Linked DNA regions of Homo sapiens. The protein of the gene in region 2 interacts with the protein of the main gene of each other region in a pairwise test. Each region holds a gene or a part of one and is shown on either strand. Other genes may lie near its edges.

What was found.
Region 1: the proteins of GSN (region 2) and E2F8 interact in binary tests that used the Homo sapiens proteins (3 or more experiments, as listed by UniProt).
Region 3: the proteins of GSN (region 2) and PLEKHS1 interact in binary tests that used the Homo sapiens proteins (3 or more experiments, as listed by UniProt).

What each region holds. Positions count from the first base shown.
Region 1 is NC_000011.10:19,234,269-19,238,021, reverse strand, and holds part of E2F8 (transcription factor E2F8), read left to right. Parts: coding exon 1-168; intron 169-551; coding exon 552-708; intron 709-2,963; coding exon 2,964-3,278; intron 3,279-3,500; coding exon 3,501-3,662; intron 3,663-3,753. UniProt on the Homo sapiens protein: Atypical E2F transcription factor that participates in various processes such as angiogenesis and polyploidization of specialized cells.
Region 2 is NC_000009.12:121,271,105-121,274,857, forward strand, and holds part of GSN (gelsolin), read left to right. Parts: intron 1-705; exon of another isoform or gene 706-759; intron 760-3,753. UniProt on the Homo sapiens protein: Calcium-regulated, actin-modulating protein that binds to the plus (or barbed) ends of actin monomers or filaments, preventing monomer exchange (end-blocking or capping).
Region 3 is NC_000010.11:113,749,821-113,753,573, forward strand, and holds the start of PLEKHS1 (pleckstrin homology domain-containing family S member 1), read left to right. Parts: upstream 1-1,861; 5' UTR 1,862-1,941; intron 1,942-3,753.

The DNA.
Region 1 (3,753 bases), on a different chromosome or scaffold from region 2:
ACCACACCTACCAAGCCCAAGGAAGGCTCTCAGGGAGAGCCGTGGACACCGACAGCCAACCTGAAAATGCTCATCAGTGCTGTGAGCCCTGAGATCCGCAACAGAGATCAGAAAAGGGGTTTGTTTGACAACAGAAGTGGATTACCTGAGGCCAAAGACTGTATACACGTAGGTTTTCAGAGGACTGGTTGGAGGCTGGGGAATTTGTTGGGGGGAGGGGGGAGGTTGTAGCTATTAGAGAAGTGCCAGCAATTTAAAGCATCACCACCCGAAGGCTGTTATTAACTTCCTTCGGAGCACCAGAAAGGTTTGGACCCCAAGAAATATAGCTCTGGGAATTCTGAACCTTTGCGTTATTTTCGTTTCAGGCTTTCCTTTCAGGTTTGCCAAGCATTTTGTACTGGCCCCCCTAACCTTTTCTCCCATCCAGACTTTGCAGCTGTTGAAGCTAAGCGTGTGTAAGTTGGTGTCAGTCATCGAGCACAGATGCCCCTAATAAATCTGTCAGACTTTATTTTAGAATAAGACATTGTTTACCTTTTCCTTTGTAGGAACACTTATCTGGAGATGAATTTGAGAAATCCCAACCAAGTCGAAAAGAGAAAAGTTTAGGATTATTGTGTCATAAGTTCTTAGCACGATATCCTAATTATCCCAACCCTGCTGTGAATAATGACATCTGCCTTGACGAAGTGGCAGAGGAACTTAGTAAGTATGCAAAGAACTCACTGAAAGAATTAATAATTAAAGTGGCTTTATGGACTTAACTCCTTCAGACCCCCGCTCATCTAGCCAGTGTTTGTAAATGACACAAATAAGCCGGCATGGAAATTTTCTATCTCTAAAGCCCTCTTCTAATATAAGAATGAAGGTAAGTAGTTGCAAATTTCAGCAAATCTTGGAGGCAGAAAAGTCACAATGGAGGTTGCTTCTGACTACAGTTGTCTCTGAAGCTTTAAAGAAAGGCAATATTGTCTCATGACTTGTTTCACAAAGTTACAACTGTGAACTTTTGCTTCATTGCTCTCCCTTGCTGTTCTTGAAGAATCAGGCTGATAAATGGTTATCTTCCTAGTTGACGCTGAGGATCAGCTTCTGTGAGTGGGAACAGGACCTGTGCACTCCTGGACCTTCAGCACTATTCTGAGGACTAGTTTTCTGAATGTTTTGTGTTGGGCACAAGTTATTCCTCCTGCCCCTTTTTACTCTGTTCAAAGACCTGAATCTATTTGGAGCTAAAAAGGGGCCCGTGGTGAATTTGGGGTACCTTTGGAGTCATGTGGGTATCTTAATTTAAACCTGTGAAGTGATGTGCTGTGCAAGATAATACATTTTAATACAAAGCAATCACCCCGTGAAGAAAAGTTGCCCTTCTAATACATGTTTGTAAATATCAACTTTATTTCACATTTTAAGAATATACCGTTTAGATTCATCTACTTTTCATATATGCTTAATGGTAGCTGGGTAGGATATTCAGCAAATATCTATTAATCTTCTACTACTATGTGTCAGGCAATGTTGTAGGAGCCTGGGATACATCCGTAAACAAAAAGGGCAAAATCTCTTCTCTCTTAGAACCTATATTCTAGTGGGGCAATAGATACTGAGTAAAGGATATAGGAAGTAAGTAAGGATAATACATGCTAGAAGGTAACATGCATAGTGGAAAAAATAAATTGTAGATCAGGATCAAGGGATCAGGAGTGCTGGGGAGGTGCTTTGCCATAAGTGGTCAGATCAGGCTTCGTTGAGAAGGTGACATCTGGGCAAGGACTTGAAAGAAGCAAGGTAGGGAGCTGTAAGGACATCAGGGAGAAGGGTTCCAGGCAGAAGGAACAGCCGGTACAAAGCAAGTGCATATCTGGCAGGTTCCAGGGACAGCAAGAGGTCGGTAGGATGCACCCTTATTAAAATAGTGTTTTATTGATCACTTTTCCAGAAAGGCTGATCTCATCAAATATTTAAATTGAAATTAAGTTTCTTGAACGAAGAGAATTCTAACATTACAGAATATTGAAAACCCAATTTAAATAGATAGAGTCACAGAATTACTAATATCATATTGTTAATGATAGCTAGAAAGTAAGCAAAATTAGACCCAAAAAGGCATATTTTATTTTTATGTAAGTTTTTAAAAACTACATCATGGTTTTTGTACTTTTCTGAAATCTCAGCATTTTGTTTCTATCTTATGATCATTACAGATGGGCGTGTGTGTACGTGTTTGTATTGGAAGCGGTTGGAAGGTGTGAGATGTAGAGTTTTAAAGACTTGGTTTGCTACTTGCTAGCTCTTTTGGGGTGAGCTACTTAGCTGGTCTGAGCCTCTGTTTTCTCATCGTTTTTTTTTTTTGTTTGTTTGTTTGTTTTTGAGACGGAGTCTCGCTCTTTCGCCCAGGCTGGAGTGCTGTGGCGCGATCTAGGCTCACTGCAAGCTCCGCCTCCCGGGTTCACACCATTCTCCTGCCTCAGCCTCCTGAGTAGCTGGGACTACAGGCACCCGCCACCACACCCGGCTAATTTTTTTGTATTTTTAGTAGAGACTGGGTTTCACCATGTTAGCCAGGATGGTCTCCATCTCCTGACCTCGTGATCCGCCCTCCTCGGCCTCCCAAGGTGCTGGGATTACAGGTGTGAGCCACCGCACCCGGCCTTTCTCATCCTTTTTAAAGTGCAGATCATAATACCTACTTCACAAGTTTAGGGTGAAAACTTCCTAAAGCTGTGTAGCACAACTTAGGCCCTCATTAAATGTTGCCTTTCTAATTCATATGATTTGTGCCCTTGGAAAGCAAGCACATGTCTTTCTCACCTTCACAGTATTTGTTGAGTATGTTCACTTACAGTTAGGAAAGTGATATTATCCAAGACCTACTGACTAATAAACCAATGGAAGAAAAAGCTATTCAATTCTAAACACGTTACAAAAATCTGTAACACACAATTGCACATTCTTTGTAGATGTTGAACGTCGACGCATTTACGATATCGTGAACGTCCTAGAGAGTTTACATATGGTGAGCCGCCTCGCCAAAAACAGGTACACTTGGCACGGGCGACACAATCTCAACAAAACCCTTGGCACCTTGAAGAGCATCGGGGAGGAGAATAAGTACGCCGAGCAGATTATGATGATCAAAAAGAAAGAATATGAGCAAGAGTTTGACTTTATTAAGAGTTACAGTATAGAGGATCATATCATCAAATCAAACACTGGCCCAAATGGACACCCAGACATGTGTTTTGTGGAACTCCCTGGAGTGGAATTTCGGGCAGGTGAGAGATGGTAGTGAAAACTCCAGGCGGCATGGCATTTGTCCTCTGTCTAAGGAAAAGGTTCTGTGGAGAACACAGCTCTAAAGCTACTGCTGCCTTTAATGTTCAGATGCCACAGTTGTCAGCTGTATGATCAGGTGGTAGTATTTTTAGCCTTGTTACTTTAGAAGTCACTTGTCCCTTTATGAATTTTAATTCTCTAATCCTCATCCTTCTCTAAAGCTTCTGTAAACAGCCGCAAAGACAAGTCTTTAAGGGTAATGAGCCAGAAATTTGTGATGCTGTTTTTGGTGTCAACGCCTCAGATAGTAAGCCTAGAAGTTGCTGCCAAGATTTTAATTGGGGAGGACCATGTGGAAGATTTGGATAAAAGCAAGTTTAAAAGTAAGTGTCATGACTGCCATGGATTTTTGAACCTATTCTTAAACAATAAAATCTCAGTCGTAAACTCATTTCCAAATTAGGAAACATAGGT
Region 2 (3,753 bases):
CACACCTGCAGTTCCAGCATTTTGGGAGGCCGAGTTGGGTTGATGGCTTAAGCCAGGAGTTTGAGACCAGCCTGGTCAACATGGTGAAACCCTGTCTCTACTGAAAATACGTGCTGGGATGCTCCTGTAATCCTAGCTACTTGGGAGGCTGAGGTATGAGAATTGCTTAAACCCTGGAGACGGAGGTTACAGTAAGCTGAAATCACGCCACTGCACTCCAGCCTGGATGACAGAACAATACTGTCTCAAAACAAAAAAAGAAAAGACAAAAAAAGCTATCTTTTAATATACCAAGCACTGGAACATTAATTACTTTATTGATTCCTTGCAACCATTCCTCTGAGGTAGATACTAGTATCTTCTTTTACAGATGAGGAAACTGAGTCCGAGGCTGAATAACATGCCCCGGGTTGTGTGGCTATTGGGTGATGGTGCAAGGATTCCAGAGGTCTGACGACAGAGCCATAGCTATTAATGACAGCACTAAACATTCTCTTGAAAATTCTTTCTAGTCCTGGTATTAGGAGAACTGGTAAGGGAGTTTGTTATGCTTTTATGAGGGGTGGGTGTCGGTGTGCAGAGCTTGGAGAGCTCAGCCCTGCAGCAGAGAGGCCTGGAGGGGCCTCCCGGGGCTGTTTGTAAACTCATGCTTTCCTGTGCCATCCGCAGGACCCTCAGTGCAGGTCAATCTCCCCTCCATTTCAGGGAATCCAGGCTCCAAAAGGACACAGGACTTGCCCAGCAAGGTCATGTGGTGAGGTGAGAGCCCAGCCAGGACTGGTCCCCCCTTTTCATCAATCAAGCTTATGCTCTGGAAATCTATCTGGCGAAGCCAGGAAAACTGGACACTCTCCTGCTCCTTGGTTATTCCCTGAGAAAATGCCAGCAGAAGCAGAGAAAAGCACGTCCCAGGGGTTATGCATTTTGGGGAGGAAGGGAAAAAAAGAGACCAGTGTTTAGGCAGCCGGGGGATGTTAAGTAAAAATATCTCCTCGCTTTCAACGGAGTGAGCGTGTGTCATATTTCAGCCTGATGTGGTTTGTGAAGTTGGAGACCACAGGCAGGCTCAGTTCCTGCTGCTGGCCAGCTTCCCCTTCCCTCTGTCCCTCCCCTGCCATATGCCTGCTCTCGTCTGCCCTGCCTGGGACCACATCAGCAATTTAAGAATAGGGCAGAGAAAAGCAGTGGGTGTTGTGGGCAAGGGTAGGCAGCTGAAGGCCTGGGCTTGGGTCCTGGCTTTGCCAGTGACAAAGTACTGGGTGACTTGGGCTAATGCATGCCTTTCTCTGGGCCCCAGTGTCCATTCTGCACTGTAGGGTGGACAGCATAATGTCAGCCTTCCCAGCTCTGATGGCCTCTGAGTTGGAGGGCTTTGTGCTCCCCACATGTACTTGGGTCCGGCATGTCTGAGACACAAAGTGAGCCCGCAGTGGTGCAACTGGTGATTCAGCTACTGTTCTTGAATTTAATCTTTTCGGACTGAATTGATTGCCCCATTTTGCAGATAAGGGAGTTGAGGCCTAGGATTTGTTGATGTATCCCATTCCCTGCTCTACAAGCAACAATAATAAGGGCCACCATATGTAACACACTTACTATGTATGTTCACCTTTTGCTTTCACTATCTGCTTTAATCTTTTAACAGATCTACGAGGGGAGAGATAGTGACTCCATTTTACAGATGAGGAAACTGAGGCTCAGTTTAGAAAAATGAAAGGACTTACGTTCTCTTCTTTGAGTCTCACAATAGTCCTGGGGTTGTCATTATGTGACCCATTTTACCAGTGAGGAAACTCAGGCCTGGAGACGTGAGCTCCTTTGCCCAGGGGTCCCCAGGGCCCACACACAGCCTGTCAGGTTCCTTCCCAGGCCCTCCTGCTCCTCCCTCCTCCCTTGCTTGCTCTGCCTCATGGGGAGCCTCTTCACCTCTTGCATTCAGTGCCTGGGTTAAGGGATGAGAACAGTTTTCTTCCTGGGCTATAAAGTATCCCTGAAATTGACTCTTCCCAAGAGTGATCCAGAAAGGCTTTAAGCCATGGAGCCTCGCAGGGAACTCCAGTGAAGGGGTCGCACCAGTGGGAGTGGATTCGTTTATTCTGCTGAGCTGGCTAAGCAAACAGTCCTGTTATTTTCCAACCTCAATAAGAATATCATCAGAGCCAAGCTTATTTGCCAAGCAAAGTATATATATTCTACATATGTGAGCCTTCAGGGTGGGGCTTGGCCCTTAATTTCCCTGCTACAGAGACTGTGGCTGAGCTGGGTTTTGGTGGGTACTAAGTAAATACTAGTTAACTTGTTGGGTGTGTGTTGATGATGTGGGTGGCATATGTACTTTTTTCTCCCCACCTCCAAGGACCTTTTCCCCCCACCCTTATTATTTCTATTACACTTGTGATAGAAAATTTAGGAAATAAAAAAGTATATATATAAAAAAGAAGTGTTCATAACTAACCAGAGAAAATCACTGCCAACACCTGGGTGCCCTTCCTTCCTGATATTTTCAGTGCATTTTTTTTTACCCCCACACAATTATCCTATATTTATAATTGTCTGTTCTGACTTTCTGTTTTTTCTCAACATTATATCGTAAGTATTTTTCTCATGTTATTAAGGATTCTTTTTAAATTTAATTTTTAAAAGTTTTAAAAGCATACTATACCTAAGTAGATAAATGTTTATTCTAATTTAAATCTTTTATTCCAATAGTCCTAGGGATTAAAAAATGAAATAATGCTTTTTATTTATTAACAAAAAGGCTGAGAGAAACAGGATTTGCCCAAGATCACCCCCAAAGAACCAAGACTGGGGCTCCCCAGGGCTGTAGTTTGCATCCATAAATACAGAGAGAATAATGTTTATAATCTTGGGTATAAAAACTTCTGGTGAAAAGGTTGATCAAATGCTAGCTGTATTTCTCCCCCTTCCATGGCTTTCTACTGAGTCTCTCTCTCCTACAGGACCCTACTTTGCTCCATAATTAAGCAGCAAAGTATTTCAAGAGCTGTTCAGATTCTAGAAACTCATAGCAGATGAAATCGACAGATAAGTCAGATATCGAATATAGACATTAAAAGATCTGGGCACTAGGCTGTACCCTGTTATTGTCAGTGGCTCTTTAGTCCTTAAACAAGGGTCTTGCCTCCTACTTTTTTTTTGTTATGGTAGAAATAAATGCCCACCCGAGTTTTCATCACTCACTATTATTCTATCTTTGGTGTGCCTGTACCATGTTCCCTTAACAATCCTCAATTATGAAACATTTAGGCAGTTTATAAACAATACTGCAATGAACAACCTAGTGCATACTTTTTTTGTGTGTTCTTCTTTTATTATTTCCTAGAAGTGAGCCCTAGAAATGGAGTTCCTGAGTCAAAATGACACATTTTATAGCTTTTTCTTGTTAAAAAAAAAATTCAGTGACACTTGTGAAAACACGGTAAGGAAGTCTTTATTCAGGAACATTGCCTTGGGCATAGGGACCACTGCAACAGGGTCCTACAGTGAGGGAGAGAGTTTGGGCTCAACTCCTAATACAGCATGGGCGAGTGGGAATTGATAGCTGCAGAGCAGGGTAGGGGTCAGCGGATGGAAAATTACTAAGAGGAAGCTCAGGAATAAGGGATATTCTTGCTAAACCGACCTAACAAAATTATTGATGAAGACAAACCAGGGTGATTCAAACATCAGTGGGGGCATGGTGGAGGATGAGGAGCCTGATCAGATATCAAGGATGAGGGGTTCTGGCTAAAC
Region 3 (3,753 bases), on a different chromosome or scaffold from region 2:
TTTTGTAATACTATTGGAAAAATAATACAAAAAAGCCTAGAATAGGGTGGGTTGGATGGGTGGGTAGGTGGAGGGACAGACAGATGAACAGGTTGCTGATGGAAAGCACATCTAACTGTTTCATCGGTATCCTTTCCAAAGGAACACAAGTCTTACAGTAATTTTCCCTCTTCCCCTTTTTGGTTAGGTCTCTATATTATAACAATAGGCTGTCTGGACTTTATAGTTCCCAAGTAAGTGGAAATCAGCACAAGCTTTTTATGAACTACTTAGAGCTACAACTGGTATCTGATTAAAATTCTAATGTAAAGACATTAAGACTATCTCCAGAATTATCAAAAGTTAGCCCAAAAGAACATCCAGGAAATTCTGTTAGGTCTATCTCTGTCTTGTTATAAAGAAATACCTGAGATTTGATAATTTATAAAGAAAAGAGGTTTAATTGGCCCATGGTTCTGCAAGCTGTACAGGAAGCATAGTCCTGGCATCTCTCAGCTTCTGAGAAGACCTCAGGGGGCTTTCTTTTACGCATGGTGGAAGGTGAGGCGGGAGTAGCCATGTCACCTGGTGGGAGTGGGAGCAGTAGAGTTGGGGGAGATGCCACACACTTTTAAATAAAGACCTCAGTACAACTCACTATCTCAGACACAGAACCAAGCCATGAGGGATCCACCCCCAGGACCCAACACCTCCAGCCAGACTCCACCTCCATCACTGGGGATTACATCTCAACATGAGATTTGGAGGGGACATCCAAACTATATCAAAATTAAGAAATTGTTTTTCCTAAATCAAGCAAAACTGGTCCTGTGCAGGAAGCAAACAATATATCAATAATTTCTGTATGCCTGAAGTCCAGCTAGGTTTGCTAAATGAAGAAACCAATAACATCTACCCTCCATAGGATGCAAAAGAGAAAAACAAAGAAATACCCTCTGTTGAATGCTAACTGTGGATAAAGCACTGTGCTAGATGCTTTTTATATGTGAAATTTTACTTAACTTTAAAAAAAAATCCTGTGAAGTCAGTATTATCTGTTCCATTTTGCAGATGAGGAAACAGACTCAGAGAACTCCAGTTAACTTGCCAAGACCACACAATGGATCCATGGCAGAGCTGATTCCAGACCAGCTACCCTCGTGAGGATGAGGATTCAAATGATGTACTTTTACTTCTAAAGGCAGTAGAACAGGATAAAATTCATCATCACTTCTTCCTCTCCCCTAGAAATCTGTAATACACATGAAAATATACCTAAGACCCTTTGGTGGCTGGATACCACTCACCAGGTCTAAGAATGATGGTTTGCTCAATTGCTGTTGGTGGCTGTGCAGGGGAACATGCCTAGCGCCACCCTGTTGATGGTAACACTCTGTCATGGCTGAATGAGCAACTCTTCCTGGAAACCATTGGCATGTACAAGTGTTTAGAGAAGCCAGGCTTTTGTTTCCTCATCTGGTACAAAGGAACCCTTTCTACCCTTCCCAGGAAGACATTGGTTAAGATATGGCTGAGGGAGGCATAGGGATTTTTTTTCAATGGTAGTCACCACAGACGGTTGAGGGTAAATTGGCGTTGTTCTCAATAAGGGTTATTGTGACCATGGTCCAAAGTCTGGCAGGAATTTTTTTTTATTATTAATGTGTTTGCTTTCATTTTTGGTGCTAGGCAGCTGGGACACCAAGGAGAGTTCTGTGGCAAGCCACAAGTATGAAGGCCCAGAACTTCCCCTGAGGGCATAGCTTCCATTTCAGTTTGGGGCAAGAATAAAATCTGCTCAAGGATATTAGTTTGGGAACTTCCTGGTGGTTCAGATTTCAAGCAGAGTTTGTGCTTAATCCTCACCCAGGCACCAAGGCTCAGAGTCAGCAGGAGTGAGTTCAGGAATCCTCGGGACAAGGCACTTTCCTGAGCACTGGACCAGCGACCTCTTGGCTTCCAGTAAGTACTGCTTGGTGTATCTGGTTTGGACTTCCAAGGCTGGGATGATCTAGAAGCTTTTTTGCAATTGAACAATTGCAAAATTGGAAATGGAAAATTTTGCAGATATGCTGTATTTCTGTTATGGGCACTTTCTTCATAAGCTTCCTAGGCTATACTATAGTCAGAGGGAAATAGGACTGACCTCTTGGTATACTGTATTCACCAAATCCAAAATAATGTTATAATAAATGGGTCAGGCAGTGACTGTGGGGAGATTCTCCTGAATGAGATCAAACAGCTAAATCAGAAAGGCTTTCTTTTTTGTTTGGGGGCAATGACAAGAAAAACAAGCAGAACTATGAAAAGACTTAATTCTACTTTCTTAGATAGGAGGAAAAGCAAAGTAGTTAAGGCCAGCTCTCAAGCTAGAATTCTGGTTCTGCTTCTTTTTAATTACATGATCAAAGTAAAGTTGTTTAATCTCTCCGATAACCATTTCCTCGTCTGTAAATGGGCATTGTATCATTGTGAAAACAGTGCAAGCTTTAGAGTACGGTTATGAGGTTAGGATGAGATTTTATATGTATATGTGAAATTATATGTATACATATACATAAAATCTTTCATATACATATTGCTTAGAAGTGCCTGGAATGTATTAAGTACTCAAAAAATGCTACCCATTATTAAACAACCATAGAATCATAGAATATCTGAGCTGGAAAGGACCTAACAACTAGCATTTATTGAGCTTCTATTATGTACTGAGGAGTGCTCATCAACAGGGTATCTCAAGTGATACTCCCAGCAATCTGATGAGGGTAGTAATAACCTTCATGTTACAGATGAAGAAATGGAGGTGTAGAGAAGTATTATAAAGTATCCAAGATCACATTCCTCATAATTCATGGAGATGAAATTTAAACCCAGATGCCAGAGCTAACACTCTAAACCACCACACCCTACTGCCTTATCTGTCCTCTCATTTTACGGTGGGTGGGGAGATGAAGGAGGAATGGTTGCAGCACATGACTCTGGAGCCCTTTGCAGACACTGGAAGGACAGAGATGTCCTCCAAAGCACACTTTGACATCCACAGGGCACAGGGAGGGCAAATGTTATTTGGGAGTGTCCATGAGCATGAATGTGGTGCTGTGTGGAGTTCTGCCAGGGGACCTAGGTCCAAGTCATCTCAGTCTTCTCTCAAATGCAGCTTTTCATTTGTAAAATGAGCTATCTCAGAATGAAGCCATTCTGAACACAAAAAAATAATGTATGCAAATGCATTTTATAAACTTTAAAGGCTTTAGAAATATTTTTTAAAATGATTTTTTGGCTTTTTGACAAACAGCAGCTCAAAAACAGCTTGCAGTAAACACTGCTTTAAAATATGCCACCCACAGCTAATCTCTCCTGCACATTTCTCCGATTGGATCCTTGAGGGCCATCACTCATTAGGCTAACAGCTGCATAGGGGGCGTGGCCAAGTCCTATAAACATGGACAGAGGGAAAGGTGATGGGTTGAAAACCGCTTGTCCCCAGCTCTTCAGGCAGTGAAATCCTTGAAACTGGAAAGAACCTCATGGATTTGATAAGAAATCTCAGGGATAATTTTTTAAATATTATCCATGCATTTTGGGGAGTGGGCAAGGTTTTGAAGAGGTTACGTTCTCTTTCTCACACAGAATTGCTCTTCCAGGAAACAACAGCCTTCGGCCTCAATAGCTTGGCATCTTTCCCAGGCATTATAGCTCATTGCACAGAGCTGAGTGTGCCCGCTACAGCAGGCGAGGGCTAAGGGCACCGGTTCTTCAACATATGCCTTCAGA